2 separate regions of the Homo sapiens genome follow, and region 1 is linked to region 2. Evidence: fine-mapped expression QTL. A gene starts in region 2. The other region holds a variant in brackets. All regions are shown on one strand. Distances are from middle to middle.

Region 1 (5,000 bases), 34 kb before region 2:
CAAGAGGCAGGGGAGTGTAATGTCAGGTTGGGCACAGGGGGCAACCACCTAGAGCTCCACAATGCATTATGTAGCCACTATTGCATGTGGTTATGCAAATTTTAATTAAATAAAATTTAAAATTCCATTCCTCAGTCTCACTAGCTATTTCCTGTGTCAAACAGTCACACAAGGCCAGTGACCATTATACTGAACACTGAAGATTACAGACCATTTACATCTGCAAAGAAAGTTCTATTGGATGGCATTGTCCTAAGAAGTTAGCTTTCACACAGTACACCAAGATGGACTAAACAGACTAACCTCTACAATTCACAAGTCACTTCCAGAGGGGCTGTCAAAACTTCTCAGAAGCCCTAGGAACACTTCCCTGTGGTGGTCACCTTGTTTTGCTAGGCTCCAATTCCTGAAAACAAAGCCAGCAATCTGGGCTTCTCAATGTTTAACCTGCAGGCTACATCCCCAGTCACAATTTGGCAACCACTCTCAAATTTTCCACTTTTTAGTTCACCAGAAAATGACTAATTAAAGAATAGGAAGATGCCAACCACCATCAAGGGAAGGCCCTGAACCTATACCCTAAACCCAAGTCCCCACCCCCAACTCACTCCAGAAAAACAATCCTAAAGGCTGTTGTACCGGTAAAATCAACCATATAAACAAAGGGAGGAAATCTTTTATCTCCAAAATCAGACTGAGCAAGGAAGCCACACGGAATAAAAAAGGCAAGACCCCGGGAAACCTTAGCCATAAAGGCCCTCTGAGAAGGTGGCTACTTCCCAGCCAATCCAAATAACTCCTAACTACCATGAATACAGTGTCTTAGTTTATATCCAATTCAAACCCAATGCTTTATTTGACAATCCCCAAACACTGGGCTTTATTATTGTAACTTTTTTTTTTTTTTTGAGACAGTGAGACACGGTTTCACTCTATCGCCCAGGCTGGAGTGCAGTTGGGCAATCTCAGCTCACCTCCTACCACACCGGGGTGGGTGGGTGGGGCTCAAGCAATCCTCCCACCTCAGCCTCCCACATAGCTGGGACTACAGGCGTGTGCCATGATGCCCAGCTAATTTTTTGAATTTTTGTAGGGACAGGGTCTTGCCATGTTGCCCAGGCTGGTCTCAAACTCCTGACCTCAAGCAATCCACCCACCTTGGCCTCCCAAAGTGCTGGGATTACAGACATGAGCCACCATGCCCAGCTATTATTTTAACTTAGTTTACCAGGAAACATTAAGCATTTTTGGGAGAAAATTTGGCAAATGCAGATAGTCAAGAATTGCACTGCCAAGAATTCACCCAACCAAGCTGCACCCAAAAGCACGCTGAGATATACAGGGGAAGCTCTTTAGCAATGTGGATAGTAGGGATGAAAGGTCATGGAGAGACCAGGCACGGTGGCTCATGCCTGTAATGCCAGCACTTTGGGAGGCTGAGGGGGTGGATCACTTGAGGTCAGTAGTTCGAGACCAGCCTGGCCAACGTGGCAAAACCCCGTCTCTACTAAAAGTACAAAAATTAGCCGGGTGTGGTGGCATGCGCCTGTAGTCCCAGCTACTTGGGAGGCTGAGGGTGCAGTGAGCAGAGACGGCACCACTGCATTACAGCCTGGCAACAGAGCAACTCTGTCTCAAAAAAAAAAAAAAACAGGCTGGGCGCCTGTTACAAAATTAGCCAGGAGGGTGAGGCAGGAGAATCATCTGAGCCTGGCAGGTGGAGGTTGCCGTGAGCCGAGATCTGCCACTGCACTCAAGCCTGGGCGACAGAGCGAGACTCCGTCTCAAAAACAAACGATGACAAAAACAACAAACAAAAACCTCAGGTCAGACCATGCTATTTTTTCTGCTCAAAACCCTCTACTATCTCCTATTTCACTCACAGTAAAATCCAAAGGTTGTACAACACCCTGCATGCTCTGGCCTCCTCTTAGAACCCCTAGGCTCTCTCCCTTGCTTACTGTGCTATTTTTAGAATATGCCAGACAGCTTTCTACCCCTGGCCATTTGCCCTTGCAGTTCTCTGCACATAGCTCATCCCTTCGCTTCATTCAGGGTTCTGCCTGACTCTTACCTCCTCAGAAAGGATCCCCGACCATTCTATTTCACATTTTTTCTTTTTTTACTTTTTTTTTTTTTTAATCTCATTCTGTCACCCAGGCTGGAGTGCGGTGGTGTAATCACGGCTCATTACAGCCTTGACCTCCTGGGCTTAATGGATC[C/T]TCCCACCTCAGGCTCCTAAGTAGCTGGGACTACAGGCATGCTCCACAATGCTTGACTAATTTTTAATTTTTTTTTCTAGAGATAGAGTCTCACTATCTTGCCAGCTCAAACTCCCGCACTCAAGCAATACTCCCACCTTGGCCTCTCAAAATGCTGGGATTACAGGCATGAGCTGCCAATCCCAGCCTCATTCTAATTTAAATAGCACTGCCCTTTACTCATACTCGTATAATGCTGTGGGATATTCTGCATTGCATTTATAACTACCCAACTTTATGTTATATATTTATTATCAATTTTTCCACTAGAACACCAGCTTGATAAGAACAAAGACTAGGCTCATTTTGCCTACTGCTGTGTCCCAAGCTCTGAGAGAAATGCCTGGCAAAGTTTATTGGTTGGCACTCAATAAAAGCACGTTGAATGCAAGAATCCTTACAATGGATTGCTATCCAGGCTTAAAAAAAATTATGTAAGGCCAAGTGCTGTCATCCCAGCACTTTGGGAGGCTGAGGTGGGAGGATACCTGAGCCCAGGGGTTCAAGACCAGTCTGGGCAATACAGGGAGACCCCATCTCTACAAAATAAAAAAATTAGCAAGGTATAGTGGCACAGGCCTGTGGTCCCAGCTACTCAGGAGGCTGAGGTGGGAGGATGGCTTGAGCCCAGGAGGTTGAGGCTACAGTGAACCATAATTGCATCACTGCACTCCAGCCTATGTAACAGGGTGAGACCTCATCTCAAAAAAAAAAAAAAAAAAAATAGATGTAGCTCAGTAGCTGTTGATGGACCAATCTGCATAATATAATGTCAAGAAAAAAAGGAAAGGCACCTATAATCCCAGCACTTTGGGAAGCTGAGGTGAGAGGATTGCTTGAGGCTAGGAATTTGAGACTAGCCTGGGCATCATAGCAAAACCCTGCCTCTACAAAAATAAAAATAAAAAATTACTTGGGTGTGGAGGTGCACACCTGTAATCCAGCTGCTCAGGAGGCTAAAATAGGAGGATCGCTTGAGCCCAGAAGTTTGAGGCTGCAGTGAGCCATGATGGCACCACTTCACTCCAGCCTGGGTGACAGAGCAAGACTCTATCTCTAAAAATAAATAAATAAAAATAAGTGTTACTTTGGCCGGGGGTGGTGGCTCACGCCCATAATCCCAGCACTTTGGGAGGCTGAGGCGGGTGGATCACTTGAGGTCAGGAGTTTGAGACCAGCCTGGTCAACGTGGTGAAACCCCGTCTCCACTAAAAATACAAAAATTAGCTGGGCGTGGTGGCACACGCCTGTAGTCCCAGCTACTTGGGAGGCTGAGGTAGGAGAATCGCTTAAACCTGGGAGGCAGAGGTTGCAGTGAGCCGAGATCACACCACTGCACTCCAGCCTGGACGACGGAGTGAGACTCTGTCTAAAAAAAAAAAATGTTACTTAAAAAAAAAAAAAAAAGGAAACAGTTAAAGGAACAAGGCCACAACAGTCAGCAACTGACAGAGCCAAGTGGCTTATAGGCCAGAGGGTCCCCACACCAAGTTCTTTCTACACCAGGTCATTCTCAGACGCTATCTTGGTGCTGCGGTATCAGGCAATGCCTTGACAGTTGCTGACAATGAAGTCAACAAAGCTGCAGGGATGGAAGAGCAAGCTCTCCATCCTGAAGTTACCTCTGGAGGGCAGAGGCCAGACTTGAAACATGGATTGGCATCATGCTAGGCCTCAAGCTCTTAACTTCTTTTTCAGCTTTTTCCTGTGGTGATTCCTTTGTCCTAAGCAAATGCCAGCCACAAGACAGACCTGCAACATTTGACCTTATGTCAGACAGAATGAAAATTGTGTGGGGCCTCTTGGAGGGTGGGGTGGGGGGAGGGATAGCATTAGGAAAAATAGTTATTCCATGCTGGGCTTAATACTTAGGTGATGGGCTGGGCGTGGTGGCTCGTGCCTGTAATCCCAGCACTTTCGGAGGCCGAGGCGGGTGGATCACAAGGTCAAGAGATCGAGACTGAGGGCTGGGCACGATGGCTCATGCCTGTAATCCCAGCACTTTGGGAGTCCGAGGTGGGCAGATCATGAGGTCAGGAGTTCGAGACCAGCCTGACCAACATGATGAAACCCCATCTCTACTAAAAATACAAAAATTAGCCGGGCGTGGTGGCAGGCGCCTGTAATCCCAGCTACTCAGGAGGCTGAGACAGGAGAATTGCTTGCACCCGGGAGGCAGAGGTTGCAGTGAGCCGAGATCGTGCCATTGCACTCCAGCCTGGGCCACAGAGCAAGACTCCGTCTCAAAAAAAAAAAAAAAAAAAAAAAAAGAGAGAGATCGAGACCATCCTGGACAATGTAGTGAAACTCCGTATCTACTAAAAAGTATAAAAATTAGCTGGGCATGGTGGCATGCATCTGTAGTCCCAGCTACTTAGGAGGCTGAGGCAGGAGAATTGCTTGAACCCAGGAGGCAGAGGTTGAAGTGAGCCAAGATCGCGCCACTGCACTCTAGCCTGGTGACAGAGCAAGATTCCGTCTCAAATTAAAAAAAAAAAAACCTAGGTGATGGGTTGACAGGTGCAGCAAACCACCATGGCATACTATGTAACAAATCTGCACACCCTGCACATGTACCCCAGACCTTTAAAAAAAAAAAAAAGAAAATTGTGTAAACTCCAACAGCTGCAGTCAGCAGAACATGACACGTGGGGAAATTTAAGAACATCCTTCTTCAAACACAGATAACTTTGAGATGGTCCCTTTTTTTTTTTTGACACGGAGACTTTTTTTTTTTTT
Region 2 (5,512 bases):
GTACCCAACTAGAAAGTTGTTTTTTTTTTTTTGAGATGAAGTCTCACTCTATTGCCCAGGCTGGAATGCAGTGGTGCAATCGCAGCTTACTGCAACCTCCACCTCTCAGGTTCAGGCGATTCTCCTGCCTTAGCCTCCAGAGTAGCCGGGACTACAAGTGCCCGCCACTACACCCAGCTAATTTTTGTATTTTTAGTAGAGACAGGGTTTCATCATGTTGGCCAGGATGGTCTCGATCTCCTGACCTTGTGATCCGCCCACCTTGGCCTCCCAAAGTCCTAGGGTAGGTGTGAGCCACCGTGCCCGGCCTATTTTTTATCTTTTATACTGTATTTGTACTGTACCTTTTCTATTTAGATTTGTCTAAACACACAAATATTTACCATTATAGTCCAGTTGCCTATGGTATTCAGTACAGTCACATGCTGTATAGGTTTGTAGCCTAGGAGCAATGCGCTATACCATATATCCTAGGGTGCAGTAGGTTTGTGTAAATAAACTCTAGGATGCTTGCATAAGATAAACTCAGGGCTGGGCACAGTGGCTCACGCCTGTAATCCCAACACTCTGGGAGGCTGAGGTGGGCAGATCACCTGAGGTCAGGTGTTCAAGACCAGCCTGGCCAACATGGTCAAACCCCATCTCTACTAAAAATACAAAAATTAGCTGGGCATGGTGGCGTGTGCCTGTAGTCCCAGTTACTCGGGAGACTGAGACAGAGAACTGGTTGAACCTGGGAGGCGGAGGTTGCAGTGACCCGAGATCGCGCCACTGCACTCCAGCCTGGGTGACAGAATGAGACTACGTCTCAAAAAAAAAAAATTAATTTCCATTTCTATTTAATTTTTAAATGTGGCTACTACAAAATGCAAAGTTAGAAATGTGGCTTGCAAATTTTTCTATTGCATAGCTCAAGCTTAGAACCTTCCTGTCGTTACAAGTTCTAAGTTTGGTTTTTATCTCGCAAGCAGCACTACTGTGTGGGAAGTTGTGGGGGGTATGGAGATGAAAGAAGAGGGGCGCTACCTCCTGGGAAGTGACAACCTAGCGGGGGAAATAGATGTATCTTCCCAGTGGGGGTGAGAAGTGTCATTCTCACCTATTTCAGCAGCCTTGGTGGTATGAAAAGGCATCCCAACCAGCACAGAAGCAGGATGCCTCCAAGACTGCCTTGGTTGGCACCTGCAGCCTGAAGGGGGAGAAAAAGGCTTTGCTAGCTCCCCTACCATCGAGGATGAAGACCCCCACTGTACACAGTGTATAAGGTTTCTTTCCATGTGAATCCCAGTGACTCTCCTTAACTGGGTGGAGGTGGAAGGTGTCATCAGCCTTGTCCCAGATCGAGCCCCTCAGGCCCACAGAGCCCCAGTGGGGCCTGGCTATTACTGACACTCATGTCACACTGAGATGTAAGACGGCAGCCCAGGCCAAGCTTCCCCGGGCCCCCTCAGATTCTCGGGCCCTCCCACTCCCCTCAGGCTTCCTCGGCCTCCCTGCCAAACATCTATCTCCCTTTGGACCCCACTGCTCCCCAAAACTCCCCACGCCCTTAGTCTGTTCCTTCAGTTCCCCAAACTCCTTCAGCCTCATCTAGACTCCCCTCCGTCCCTCTTCTAGGACCCCAAAAGCTCTCCTCGGCCCCAGGACCCCGCAGAGGTCCCGTAGTCCCATCTCTGAGACCCCACAAAGCCTTTCGGACCCCTCAGGTGGCCCTTAGGCCTCCGGAGATCCCTTGGCTCCCCACACTCTCCTCAGACCCCAGCTCACCTTAGCCTCGCCCCGAACCCACCTCACACACCCCAAACGCCCACAAGACGCCGCTCTGTCTAGTCTCTCCCAACTCCCGCGCACCCCCGGACGTCCCCCCCACCCCAGGCCCGGATCCTGGAATCACCTGGGCCCCGCGCCCCACGCCCCGCCGCCGGGCCCACCTGCGCGCCCAGCTGGTTCAGCTGCTGCATGTCGCCGCCCACGGCCTCCGGCACCGGGTCCTCAGTGCAGTGCAGGCGGCCCATGGCGCGCGCCCCAGCCCCGCAGGTTCCACCGCCGCCGCCGCCCTGCTCAGCTTCCTCCTCCGCTGCCGCTGCCACCGCTGCCGGCCTCTCCGCGCATCCACAACCGCACTTTCGCCACGGCCGTCGCAGCGCACTCCTCCCCCGGCCGCCCTGGGCTGTCCGGAGCCGGGGAGCCCTCGCAGGGCCGCGGACACGCGCGGCCGCCGGGCTCCGGGGAGGGGCAGGGGCGGCGCCGGCACCGGCAGACGCGAGGTTTCCTGCCAGCTCTCCCGCTGAGTGACCTTTGGGTACGGCGCTTGGCCTCTCTGAACCTCAGTTTCACCATCTGAGAAAATGATGGCTGGGGTAGCTCCTTAAATGAGTTAAGCCTCCAGAAATGTTTAACGCAGAGACCGGCACACAAGAGGTCTTCAATCAATGGCTAGCTGCTATTATCATCATCACTGTTACTATGCACTCCAGAGATATTTATGGCAGCCTACTCGATGCCAGACACTGGGGACAGGGAAGGGAACAAAGCAGGCCAGAGTGTCTCTCGGAGAGCTGACATCAGAGTAGAGACTAGGTCTCAACCTTGGAAGGGCATCAGCATCACCCCAGCATCACCTGGTATTGCCGGGCCCCGCCCCCAGAGGATCTGATTCGAAAGGCCAGGGTGGAGCCTGAGAATTTGCATTTCCAATAAGCACCCAGGGACTACACTTTGAGACCTTCTGGAGTGGAAGAAACTGACTTACCAAAGTTTCCTCAAAATAGTGCGAGGGCTTTGACTGTGCGGGGCAGGGAGGGTGGTGGTGAGGTGGGTGAGGGGAGGTTACTGAGACCGTGATCATCACTGCAGCCCCTCAAACACTCTAACCCCCATGCCCTCTCTTCCCAGGGGCTCCTCACAGTTCCCAGGTGAATATTACCCTAATCCCCACTGGAAACATGAGAAAATAGAGACATGCTACCCAGAATCTAGGAACTGAACGCCAAGCCTAAGGGCTTCACCTAGCCCCTAAGTCCAGCCTTGAGGGTAAAGAGGTAATGCCGAGAAACCTGGAGCAGGGAAATGTGGGGGGTTTGGCTGGCCTTCCTCACCAGCCCTCCTCCTCTCCTCTACCCTTTCCTGAAAATCCCTTCTGTAAAAGTATAAACAAAATGTCTTCTACCCGGCCCGGCGCGGTGGCTCACTCCTGTAATCCCAGCACTTTGGGAGGCTGAGGCGGGCGGATCACTTGAGGTCAGGAGTTTGAGACCAGCCTCAACATGGAGAAACTCCGTCTCTACTAAAAATACAAAATTAGCCGGGCGTAGTGGTGCATGTCTGTAATCTCAGCTACTCGGGAGGCTGAGGCAGGAGAATTCCCTGAACCCGGGAGGCATAGGTTGCGGTAAGCCGAGATCGCGCCATTGCACTCCAGCCTGGGCAACAAGAGCGAAACTCCGTCTCAAAGAAAAAACAAAAAAGTCTTCTACCCAAAGGCCAAGCCCATCCCCTTCAGTCATTATATCATTCATACATTCATTCAACAAATATTGAGTGGCACATGCCTGTGGTCCCAGCTACTCGGAGGCTGAGGCAAGAGGATCACTTGAGATCTTGAGATCGAGACTGCAGTGAACCCAGATGGCGCCACTGCACTCCAGCCTGGGCGACAGAGCAAGACCACATCTCCATAAAAAAAAAAGAAGGTCTGCTGTGAGGCAGATACCATGACATGATAGGGGGTGGGGATTCCACAGTGACACAACCAGATGAACCAGATGCAGTGCCTGGCCTCTGAGAAGTCAGAATTGACCCAGGGGGCAGACGCAAGTGTGTGTGAAAGTATTAAGGGATGCCAAAAAGTAGGAGGTGCTTTGAGAATGTGTACAGGACACAGTCCGAGTTTGGAGTACCTGGAAGAGAATAAACCTTCGGGTGACAAACAGACAGGAACTCAGAGGCCCTACTCACCGTGCAAGAATTTTTTTTTTTTTTTTTTTTGAGACAGATTCTGGCTCTGTCACCCAGGCTGGAGTGCAGTGGCACAATCTCGGCTCACTGCAATTTCTGCTTCCCGGGTTCTAGTGATTCTCCAGCCTCAGCCTCCCGAATAGCTGGGAATGCAGGTGGCCACCACCAAACCCAGCTAACTTTTGTCTTTTTTTTTTTTTTTTGGAAACGGAGTTTTGCTCTTTTTGTCCAGGCTGGAGTGCAATGGCGAGATCTCGGCTCACTGCAACCTCCGCCTCCCGGGTTCAAGTGATTCTCCTGTCTCAGCCTCCCAAGTAGCTGGGATTACAGGCATGTGCCACCACCCCGGCTAATTTTGTACTTTTAGTAGAGACGGGTTTCTCCATGTTGGTCAGGCTGGTCTTGAACTCCCCACCTCAGGTGATCCGCCTGCCTCGGCCTCCCAAAGTGCTGGGTTTACAGGCGCGAGCCACCGCACCTGGCCCAACTTTTGTCTTCTTACTAGAGATGGGTTTTCACCGCATTGGCCAGGCTGGTCTCATACTCCTGACCTCAAGTGATCCACCTGCGTCAGCCTCCCAAAGTGCTGGCATTACAGGCGTGAGCCACTGCACCTGGCCCGGAATTTTTATTTTTAAATATTTTTAACCTTGTTAAAAAAGAAGATCTGGGCTGGGCGCAGTGACGCATGCCTGTAATCCTAGCACTCTGGGAGGCTGAGGCCGGTGGATCACCTGAGGTCCGGAGTTCAAGACCAGCCTAGCCAACATAGTGAAACCCTGGTTCTACTAAAAATACAAAAATTAGCCGGGCATGGTGGTTCATGCCTGTAATCCCGGCTACTCTAGAGGCTGAGGCAGGAAAATCGCTTGAACCCAGTAGGCAGAGATTGCAGTGAGCCGAAATCCCACCACTGCACTCCAGCCTGAGCGACAGAGCAAGACTCTGTTCAAAAATAAATAAATAAATAGTTGGGGGAAAAAAAAAAGAAGATCCCCATCAGGGCATTACATTTCTTCATATCTTTAAGTGTTAAATCAACTGTTTAGGTATAAAAAATAAAATGAACCTGTTTTAAGTTTTGTTTTGTTTTTAACATCCTGGAGAAAACCACTGGATTTCTTTTCATTTCTGCTTCCACAGTGACTGGTGCTGAGTCACTTGATAAATACTGTATTTGTGGAACGGAATTAGCTCATGTGACAGAAAATACAGAAAAGGAAAGGAATTCACTTGAAACTGACACCCAATACTATAGGAATATGGTGACTCTTCTTTTCCAGTCTTTTTTTTTTTTTTTGAGACGGAGTCTCTCTCTGTCGCCCAGGCTGGAGTGCAGTGGTGCTATCTCGGCTCACTGCAAGCTCCGCCTCCCGGGTTCACGCCATTCTCCGGCCTCAGCCTCCCGAGTAGCTGGGACTACAGGTGCCCGCTATCACGCTTGGCTAATTTTTTGTATTTTTAGTAGAGACGGGGTTTCACCGTGTTAGCCAGGATGGTCTCCATCTCCTGACCTCGTGATTCACCCGCCTCGGCCTCCCAAAGTGCTGGGATT

What was found. PIP is the estimated chance that this variant, and not a neighbour inherited with it, causes the effect. A credible set is the group of variants that fine-mapping cannot tell apart.
Region 1: its variant is the best candidate, but not a certain one, in a credible set for the expression of COMMD7 in whole blood (INTERVAL, PIP 0.87).

What each region holds. Positions count from the first base shown.
Region 1 is chr20:32,707,764-32,712,763 of GRCh38, forward strand. The region is part of intron 3 of COMMD7 (COMM domain containing 7); the gene reads right to left. Among named protein-coding and RNA genes, the nearest start is that of COMMD7, 33 kb to the right of the region's middle. RefSeq lists an enhancer at 1,099-1,605 and a silencer at 3,624-3,918. The variant C/T (reference allele first, on the strand shown) is at 2,223.
Region 2 is chr20:32,741,377-32,746,888 of GRCh38, forward strand. COMMD7 (COMM domain containing 7) reads right to left here and starts at 2,091. Exons shown (of 9, transcript NM_053041.3): 1 at 1,932-2,091. The coding sequence starts at 2,015. RefSeq lists enhancers at 1-257, 927-1,754, 2,642-3,586, 5,475-5,512 and silencers at 708-882, 1,867-1,936, 2,117-2,346.